2 separate regions of the Homo sapiens genome follow, and region 1 is linked to region 2. The links come from fine-mapping of genetic effects on gene expression. Tissue or cell type: sun-exposed skin. Region 2 holds a variant in brackets; the other region holds the start of a gene. All regions are shown on one strand. Distances are from middle to middle.

Region 1 (4,156 bases), 32 kb before region 2:
TGGGCAAAAAGAGCAAAACTCTATCTCAAAAAAAAAAAAGAAAAAGCTGTTGGTGAAAAGCAGTAGTTTGGGTACTTGGCTACACACTGTAATCACCCTGAGAGCTTTAAACCATATTGTTGCCCAGATCCAACTCCAAGGATTCTAATTTAATTGGTCTGTTGCAACTTGGGCTTCAGGGATTTTAAGTTTACATCCTGCCCCGCCCCTCCAGTCATTCTCCACACCCCCCGCCGCCACCACCACCCTCCCCACGAAGTCTCACTCTGCAATGGCGCGATCTCGACTCACTGCAACCTCCGCCTCCCACGTTCAAGCCATTCTCCTGCCTCAGCCTCCCGAGTAGCTGGGATTACAGGCGTGTGCCACCATGCCCGGCTAATTTTTGTATTTTTAGTAGAGATGGGGGTTTCACCATGTTGGCCAGGCTGGTCTCGAACTCCTGACCTCAGGTGATACGCCCGTCTCGGCCTCCCAAAATGCTGAGATTATAGGCGTGAACCACCGCTCCCAACCCCGCAGGTGATTTTTATTTGCCAGGGGTAAGAAGCACTGGATCTGATGAAGAATGCATTAGCTGTGAGTGATTTTCATGTATGCTGCCGGGATTTGCCCCATGGCAACTCTGGAGACTGGGGTTTTAGAAAACATCCTTGCCCTGTTAAAAATTAGAAGATGACTTCAAGACATACTCAGCTGCTTGGCTAAATTGCAGAAAGAGAAAATGCCTTCTTCAGAGATCTTTTTTTTTTTAAACTTGGTTTCACTCTGTCACCCCGGCTGTAGTGCAATGGTGTGATCGTGGCTCACTGCAGTCTTGGTCTCCCAGGGTCAAGTGATCCTCCCGCCTCAGCCTTCTGAGTAGCTAGGACTGCAGGCGTGCACCACCAGACTTGGCTAAATTTTTAATTATTTTTTGTAGAGATGGGATCATCGCTATGTTGCCCGGGCTGGTCTTAAAACTCCTGGCCTCAAGTGATGCTCCCGCCTCAGCCTCCCTAGTTGCTAGAACTACAGGCACAGGCTACCACGCCTGGTTTCTTTTTTAAAATGTGGCTACTAGAAAATGTAAAATTCATATGTGCTTCACAGTTTATTTCTTAGAGAATTGCCTCCCTTGCGACATCTTAGGCTGCCTGCTCAAAAGACTGGAGGCTAGGAAAATGATGAAATCTGAGATTTTAAAATAATTGTCATTATATTGTTTCCATTTGTGAATAACATATGTATACTATTCACAAATAAAGATAACTTTATATACAAAGTTAAATGCAAATGTTCCCCAGGAAGGGCCAGTTTCCAATTCAGGAAGGAAGCGCGCCAGAAAAGGGTTCAGGAAAAACCTGTAACTCTTGCCTTATTCAACACATTCTCAGATCACGCCTCCTGTCACTCATGACCTGAGGGGGCGGGGCATGGAACTGTATCCAATCATGGGCGCTAGAGTGGGAACTGTCCAATCAGGTGCGCAGCCAAGGTAGAGGGGGCGGTGTCCTGGAGCTGGCGGGGCCTTTGTCTCGCTCCAGCCAGAGCTCAGGGTCCATCTTCATTGCTTAGTATCCTCTGCTCTAGTAGTTCCCGGTGACTGTCGCAGCCTCTGTTGCCCTCTGACTTGCAGATGCTGTGAGATCCAGAGCTAAGACTCCACGACATCCCGGAAGCCGAAAAATGGTGAGTGTGCCAGGCCGCGCATCCCGAGGTGGGGGCAGGGCTGGTTGAAACCGGCCGGAACCGGCAGTGACGGGACTGGGGCCTCCCAGCTGTCAGCTCCGGAGTCTGCGGACTGGAGTCCCCGGCAGGCACAGCTCGGCCGTCGATCACCTCCGGGCACAGGATGCGAGGTGGGCCAGCAGCCGGGACCCTGGGCGGGCATCCCGTTCCGTTCTCCCGCTTCCCGCCCGGAGCCCACCCTGGGAAGAGCCGCGCGCGTTCTTGCGTCTGCCCCGACTGCGGGGACAATGGAAGCGTCCTCAGGGCAGAGTCCAGACCCCGTGTGTGGTTTGTGCGTGGGAAGTGCTGTGATCCCGGGGGTCCTCAGTCTTTTCCTTCTCCTGTTTAAAAACTATGGGAGTCACCTTTAAAATGTTGAAAACTTATTGAAGTTAACAGTGATTTATGCTCAGAGAGCACCCAGCCACGGTTTGTGGTTGGGGGTCCAGCCGAAGAGCTTGAAGGAAAGTTTTTTATAAAGTGCAGGATGAAGCAAACCGAATTCAGTAACTGACTCGTTCCAGTTATGTAGTCATCTTATTTAGACTATTCAGGTTGTCATTGCCTGGTTATGTAATCAGAAGTTAATTGAAGGTTTGTGGTTGCTTAAATCTGAAAAATCTGAATTTTGTTTCCCCCTAAGGTAGCAATTTACAAGAAATGTATTTGCCTTTGATTTTTTTTTTTTTTAATGTAGGAACTCAGGGTACTAGAGCCACCTCAGTCTAACTGCCTGCTATTTATTTAACACTCCACAGAAGTGGTTTTCTCTTGGATTTTCCAAATGTGTGACAAACAGAATCTCAAAGCTACCACTCTGTTGCCCCAGCCTAACTCTGACTTGCAGTTGAATTTTAAATTTTCAGTTCTTTCCTGACATTCTTCAACACCAACTTCCCCTCTCTAATTCACAACATTATCAACTATTAGTCCTTTTTTGTACATTTCAGACACAGTATTTTGATTGATCATTATTTCAAAGAGCAGCGGATGGCACTTTTTAGAAAAAGAATTGTTTTTCATTTGCAAACATTTTACAGGAGATGAAAGCAGAGAATAATCCCAACACTCCACCATGAAAAAAAAAAAGACCAAAAAACAAAAACCTTTGTGCCAATCTCCCTTTAATCTTTCCTAGGCACAGACACCTTATCAGAATGTTTTTGGGTTGAGGTTCCACTTTGGAAACTTCACAGGGCAATGCATCCTCAGCCACCCTGTGTTATTTTCCTGGTTTTGAGTTTCAGAACTGTCTGGGGATGACATGAGATGCCCACAGTGGCTGTGTCTCCTGAGGTGTCTAGTGAATATCAGCCCCTGGGCCATCTCCTCTCAGGGGCAACCCTGCCAGGTATGGGAATGTGGCCTCTCTGTGGAGTGGTTGGTGCATTGTGCCTGGGAGAAATCAGGTATACCTTTCCTCTGAAAGCAAATCCATTAGGACATTAAGATTTTCTTCCCCAACTCCCAGTTTCCATTTCTTAGAGATACAGTGCTGGCCAGGCAATTTGGATGCTAGTATTGAGGAGAAAATTTTCTCAGATTGGTGAAGAGAGAAAAAAAATATCCCCAAGGACAAGGAACACCCAACCCAGTGAGGCAGTGCAAAAACCTGCAAAGCAAAATGCATCTAAGGGACACAGTGGGGCACAGCACAGTGGCTCTTGGTAGAATGGTTATTGTCCACTTCAGTGAGCAGGATGGGGCGGGAAAATGTCCCAAATGATAGAATGGCTTGACTTGACATCTGAGTCAGATATGTCTGTGTTCCAATCAGTATTGCCGCTTCCTGAGTTTGTCACCTTGGAAAGATTTCTTTGCTTATTTTAACTTCAGTTTTTAATTAAGTGTAAATTATCAGTAGAGCTTGAAAGGTAGTCTGTACTGGCAACCTGGTTTTTTCACCAACCCAGGCTTCTGTGCCACCTGATTATAGTCTCATCTGCCTGCATGGACACAGGAAGAAGTCAGAGCATAGCCTCTCCTGGGACACAATCTATAGCATGAACCAGTCCTTCCGTAACCCTGCACTGTCCCACCCATGGCTTCTAGATAGCAACTTTCCCTCGTTTGCCTTTTAGTTCCCCCACAAACCCTTTTTTTATGTGCACACAGTGTGCCCAACGCCACCCCTCAGTTGTCAGATGTCCAGTAGTTCAAGACCATGGGCCTAGACCTACCTTTTGCAGAAGCAAATACAAATTAGAAATAAGGGGCTTCATTCCCCCACTTGAAAATGAGGGAAGACATTTTGTTCTTTTGCCTTTTCCTGAAGGATAGAATTTAGAAAACTTTTATTATTGATTGATTGATTTTTTTGAGACAGAGTCTCACTCTTTCACTTAGGCTAGAGTACAATGGCATGATCATAGCTCACTATAACCTTGAACTCTTGGGCTTAAGCAGTCTTGCTACCTCAGCCTCCCAGTTACCTAGGACTATAGGC
Region 2 (4,352 bases):
TCACACTTTTAGGTCACCAGGAGACCCATATTTATCAGGGGTCCTGCTGTTCTCCTTTGCTTGCAAAAGTAAGGATGGGTTATGGAATGTGTCTGTGAGTCGTTTGGTGATGCCATGGCTCGAGGATGGAACACCAGGCAGGGCAATTGCACCATGGGTTTGCAACCAGTATTGCACCTGCAGCCCAGGATTTTTAGTCCAGCAGGTAGTTGTGGGGCCCACCCAGCTTGTGGTCCCCCAACTCAGCAGGTCTGTCTCCAGTGTCTTCCCTGGGAGCAGGCTGAATTGGCTAGGCTTGTCCCAAGCCATCTGCATTGAAATTGCTGAGTTCTTCCAGATGTTCTATGCTGCTAGGCTTCCTGGGATGGAAACCATGACTGGTCATCTGGCCACACCCTTCCCAGTTTATTCATGTGAATGAAGGGGAACTCAGCTCCCATGCTGGCTCATGATCCCATGACTTCTCTGTGTGCTGACAGTGTGGGCTTCTACCCCACTTAAGCTCAGACCACATATATCAGCTTGATATTATCAGGCAGTGTGCTGAAGACCTGGGCAGTTGGCACTGGGCCCATGGATTTGTCCTCTGGCCCTTTGGGGTCAAGCACCATCTGTGATATAAGTGGATGCCATGCTGTGGGCACCCTTCTGCAGGACCAGCCAGGTAGGTCATCTTGGACGGTGCCAGCAGGCAAAGTGGTGCATGGATCAGATTCACCTCAGTCCCATGATAGCTACAACCTTGCTCTCTCTCAGCCTGGCAGACAGCAGCAGATGGATCCCCTCAGTGCAAGATGCAGAGCCTCGGAGGATGGGCACCTATGGTCAGCTACAGCTGCACAGCACAGTGAAAACTGCAGATTTCCACAAGAGTTTAAGCTGTGCCTCTGCCTATTCTCCAGGTGGCTCCCCCTGCCAGTTCACAGATGTATAGGGATCATATGAGAGTCTATAATCAGGAGCTCAGACTAGATTTAGCTGGGAAATGCCTTTCAAGGAGAAGGAACCAAAGTGAGAATCTCAGAGGTCCATGGCTAGACTGTGTTGCCCTGGGGTTTCTTCACATATCCCTTCCATAAGACTGGTCTGGATCTACGAGCCAGTCCTGGTGCCCAGTGACTTTGAGCAAGCTTCCCATCTTCCTCTTCAACCACAGTTTCTGCATTACCTCTGAATTAAGCTTTTTCTCAAAAGATCTGTTTAAAGTATGATGTTTTACTCAACATTTTGTTTTCTCTCCTTGGAGTGAGTGTTTCCCAGCTGCATCTAGTAAGTCATCCTGTCCTTTTCTTAATTTTCTGTATTAGATTTGTAAAGTATATGTATCTGAGTCTGAAAATAACAAGTGGGATATTTTGTTAATTTCATATTTCAGCTATGTCTTCTCATTACACTGAAGACCTTTTGCCAGAACAGTGCATGCAAGATTCATTCCAAAAAGTGATACTGAGAAGATATGGAAGCTGTGGACTTGAGGATTTACACTTAAGGAAGGATGGGGAAAATGTGGGTGAGTGTAAGGATCAAAAAGAAATTTATAATGGACTTAACCAATGTTTGTCAACTCTACCTAGCAAAATTTTCCCATATAATAAATGTGTGAAAGTCTTTAGTAAATCATCAAATCTAAATAGAGAAAACATAAGACATACTACAGAGAAACTTTTCAAATGTATGCAATGTGGCAAAGTCTTTAAATCTCACTCAGGCCTTTCTTATCATAAGATAATTCACACTGAAGAGAAACTCTGCATATGTGAGGAATGTGGCAAAACCTTTAAGTGGTTCTCATACCTTACTAAACATAAGAGAATTCACACTGGAGAGAAACCATACAAATGTGAAGAATGTGGCAAAGCTTTTAACTGGTGCTCGAGTCTTACTAAACATAAGAGAATCCATACTGGTGAGAAACCCTACAAATGTGAAGAATGTGGAAAAGCCTTTCACTGGTGTTCACCCTTTGTTAGACATAAGAAAATTCATACAGGAGAAAAACCCTATACATGTGAAGACTGTGGCAGAGCGTTTAACCGGCACTCACATCTCACCAAACATAAGACAATTCACACTGGAAAGAAACCCTACAAATGTAAAGAATGTGGGAAAGCCTTTAACCACTGCTCACTACTTACTATACATGAGAGAACCCATACGGGAGAGAAACCCTATAAATGTGAAGAATGTGGCAAAGCTTTTAACTCATCATCAATTCTTACTGAACATAAGGTAATTCATAGCGGAGAGAAACCCTACAAATGTGAAAAATGTGACAAAGTCTTTAAGAGGTTCTCATACCTTACTAAACACAAGAGAATTCACACTGGAGAGAAACCCTACAAATGTGAAGAATGTGGCAAAGCTTTTAACTGGTCCTCAATCCTTACTGAACATAAGAGAATTCATACTGGAGAGAAACCCTACAACTGTGAAGAATGTGGAAAAGCCTTTAATCGGTGCTCACACCTTACTAGACATAAGAAAATTCATACTGCC[G/A]TCAAACGCTATAAATGTGAAGAATGTGGCAAAGCTTTTAAACGGTGCTCACATCTTAATGAACATAAGAGAGTTCAAAGAGGAGAGAAATCCTGCAAGTATAAAAAATGTGGGGAAGCTTTTAATCACTGCTCAAACCTTACTACGTAAGAATTTTTACTAAAGAGAAATCCTACAAATGTAAAGAATGTGGCAAATTCCATAAATCTTGCTCAAGGCATTGAAATCACAAGATAATTCATACTGGAGAGAAACACTACAAATGTGAAGAATGTGGGGAAAGTCTTCAACCATTGCTGACAGCTTATTGCACAGAAGAAAATTCATGCTGAGAAAAATTCTGATTTTAAAGAATGTGGCAAAGCATTTAATAACTACTATGAACTTACTCATCAGAGGTTTTGTGCTAGATAAAAGCAATGTAAGTGTAATGATACACATTACATTTATCTGTGGAAAGATGTCACCAAATAAAAGCCTTAGAGTACACAAGGTGTAATGATAGTGATACATTACATTTGTACATGGAAAGACTTCAAAAATATAAGCCTTAGAGTACACAAGAGTTTTTATACTGAAGAAAAACATTACAAATATAAAGATTGTTGCAATACTTTTACTTATGTTACAGATTTTGTTGTACATAGGAGAATTTATACTGAAAGGTAACCCTCTAACAGTTGCTCAAATTTTATTCCATTTTAGATAATTTACATTGGAAAGAAACCCTACAACTGTAATGAATATGAAAAAAATTGTTTAAAAAGTACACCTTAGAAAACACTAGTTTAAGGCCGGGCGCGGTGGCTCACACTTATAATCCCAGCACTTTGGGAGGCCGAGGCAGGCGGATCACGAGGTCAGGAGATCGAGACCACGATGAAACCCTGTCTCTACTAAAAATACAAAAAATTAGCTGGGCATGTTGTCGGGTGCCTGTAGTCCCAGCTACTGGGAGAGGCTGAGGCAGGAGAATGGCGTGAACCCGAGAGGCGGAGCTTGCAGTGAGCCGAGATCGCGCCACTGAACTCCAACCTGGGCGACAGAGACTCTGTCTCAAAAAAAAAGAAAGAACGCTAGTTTATATGAAAGCATTTAACAGATGCAGTAAATATAAAAAATTAATAAAAAATTAAGTCTAAATGAACATCAGAAGATTCACAGTAGAAACCACTAAGACGCTAACACTTTCAATGTTATTCTAAATCAGGGCATTGATTATAAAGAGTAATTCAAGGTTAACATAATTTAGTTAGCCTAAACAGAAATAGGAGATTAATATTTTGAGACTTAAACAATTATATTCAAAGTACACTTTTTGCATTGAAAGAATTTTAGATTTTTACAAAGGCAAATTTTGATGTAATTGAACTCTCAAATTACTTGATGCTGTGTCTTTATTCCTAGTGTCTGTATGAAAGCATGTGGTCAATTTCTGCTGCTCGGGGTTTGAGAAGTTCTATATTAGGATGTCATTTACATACTTTTCAACAGAAGATTGAGGACACTGAAATATGAGGTGTGTGAAGAAAGTACACAGAGAAACTTTTGTGGTTGACTTATAAAACTTGTAAGTGCTGCATGAGATAGATGTTCAGAGTAATAGTCTTGTGCATTATTCAAATTTTAGTAAATTGTTTTACCAATTGCACATTAGATAGTATAGTGGATTTTGTAATGCTTTTCTTAGACTGTGTGAACTTAGTTTCAATAAAACAATTATTTTTAATGTGTTAAGACAGTTGTGCATTGAATTAGGTGTTATCCTGCCACCAACATTAACCTATTTTACCTTACTCAAGTCTCTAGGTAACAGACGGTAACAACATACTATTCAGTAATATAGTGGAATGGCA

The links. PIP is the estimated chance that this variant, and not a neighbour inherited with it, causes the effect. A credible set is the group of variants that fine-mapping cannot tell apart.
Region 1: it holds the start of ZNF682, and the variant in region 2 is the best candidate, but not a certain one, in a credible set for the expression of ZNF682 in sun-exposed skin (GTEx, PIP 0.63).

Annotation. Positions count from the first base shown.
Region 1 is chr19:20,036,858-20,041,013 of GRCh38, reverse strand. It overlaps ZNF682 (zinc finger protein 682), which reads left to right and starts at 1,509. Exons shown (of 4, transcript NM_033196.3): 1 at 1,509-1,671. The coding sequence starts at 1,669. RefSeq lists an enhancer at 1,163-1,739.
Region 2 is chr19:20,004,299-20,008,650 of GRCh38, reverse strand. It overlaps ZNF682 (zinc finger protein 682), which reads left to right. Exons shown (of 4, transcript NM_033196.3): 4 at 1,376-4,233. The coding sequence ends at 2,646. It also overlaps the pseudogene BNIP3P12. Among named protein-coding and RNA genes, the nearest start is that of ZNF682, 33 kb to the left of the region's middle. The variant G/A (reference allele first, on the strand shown) is at 2,497.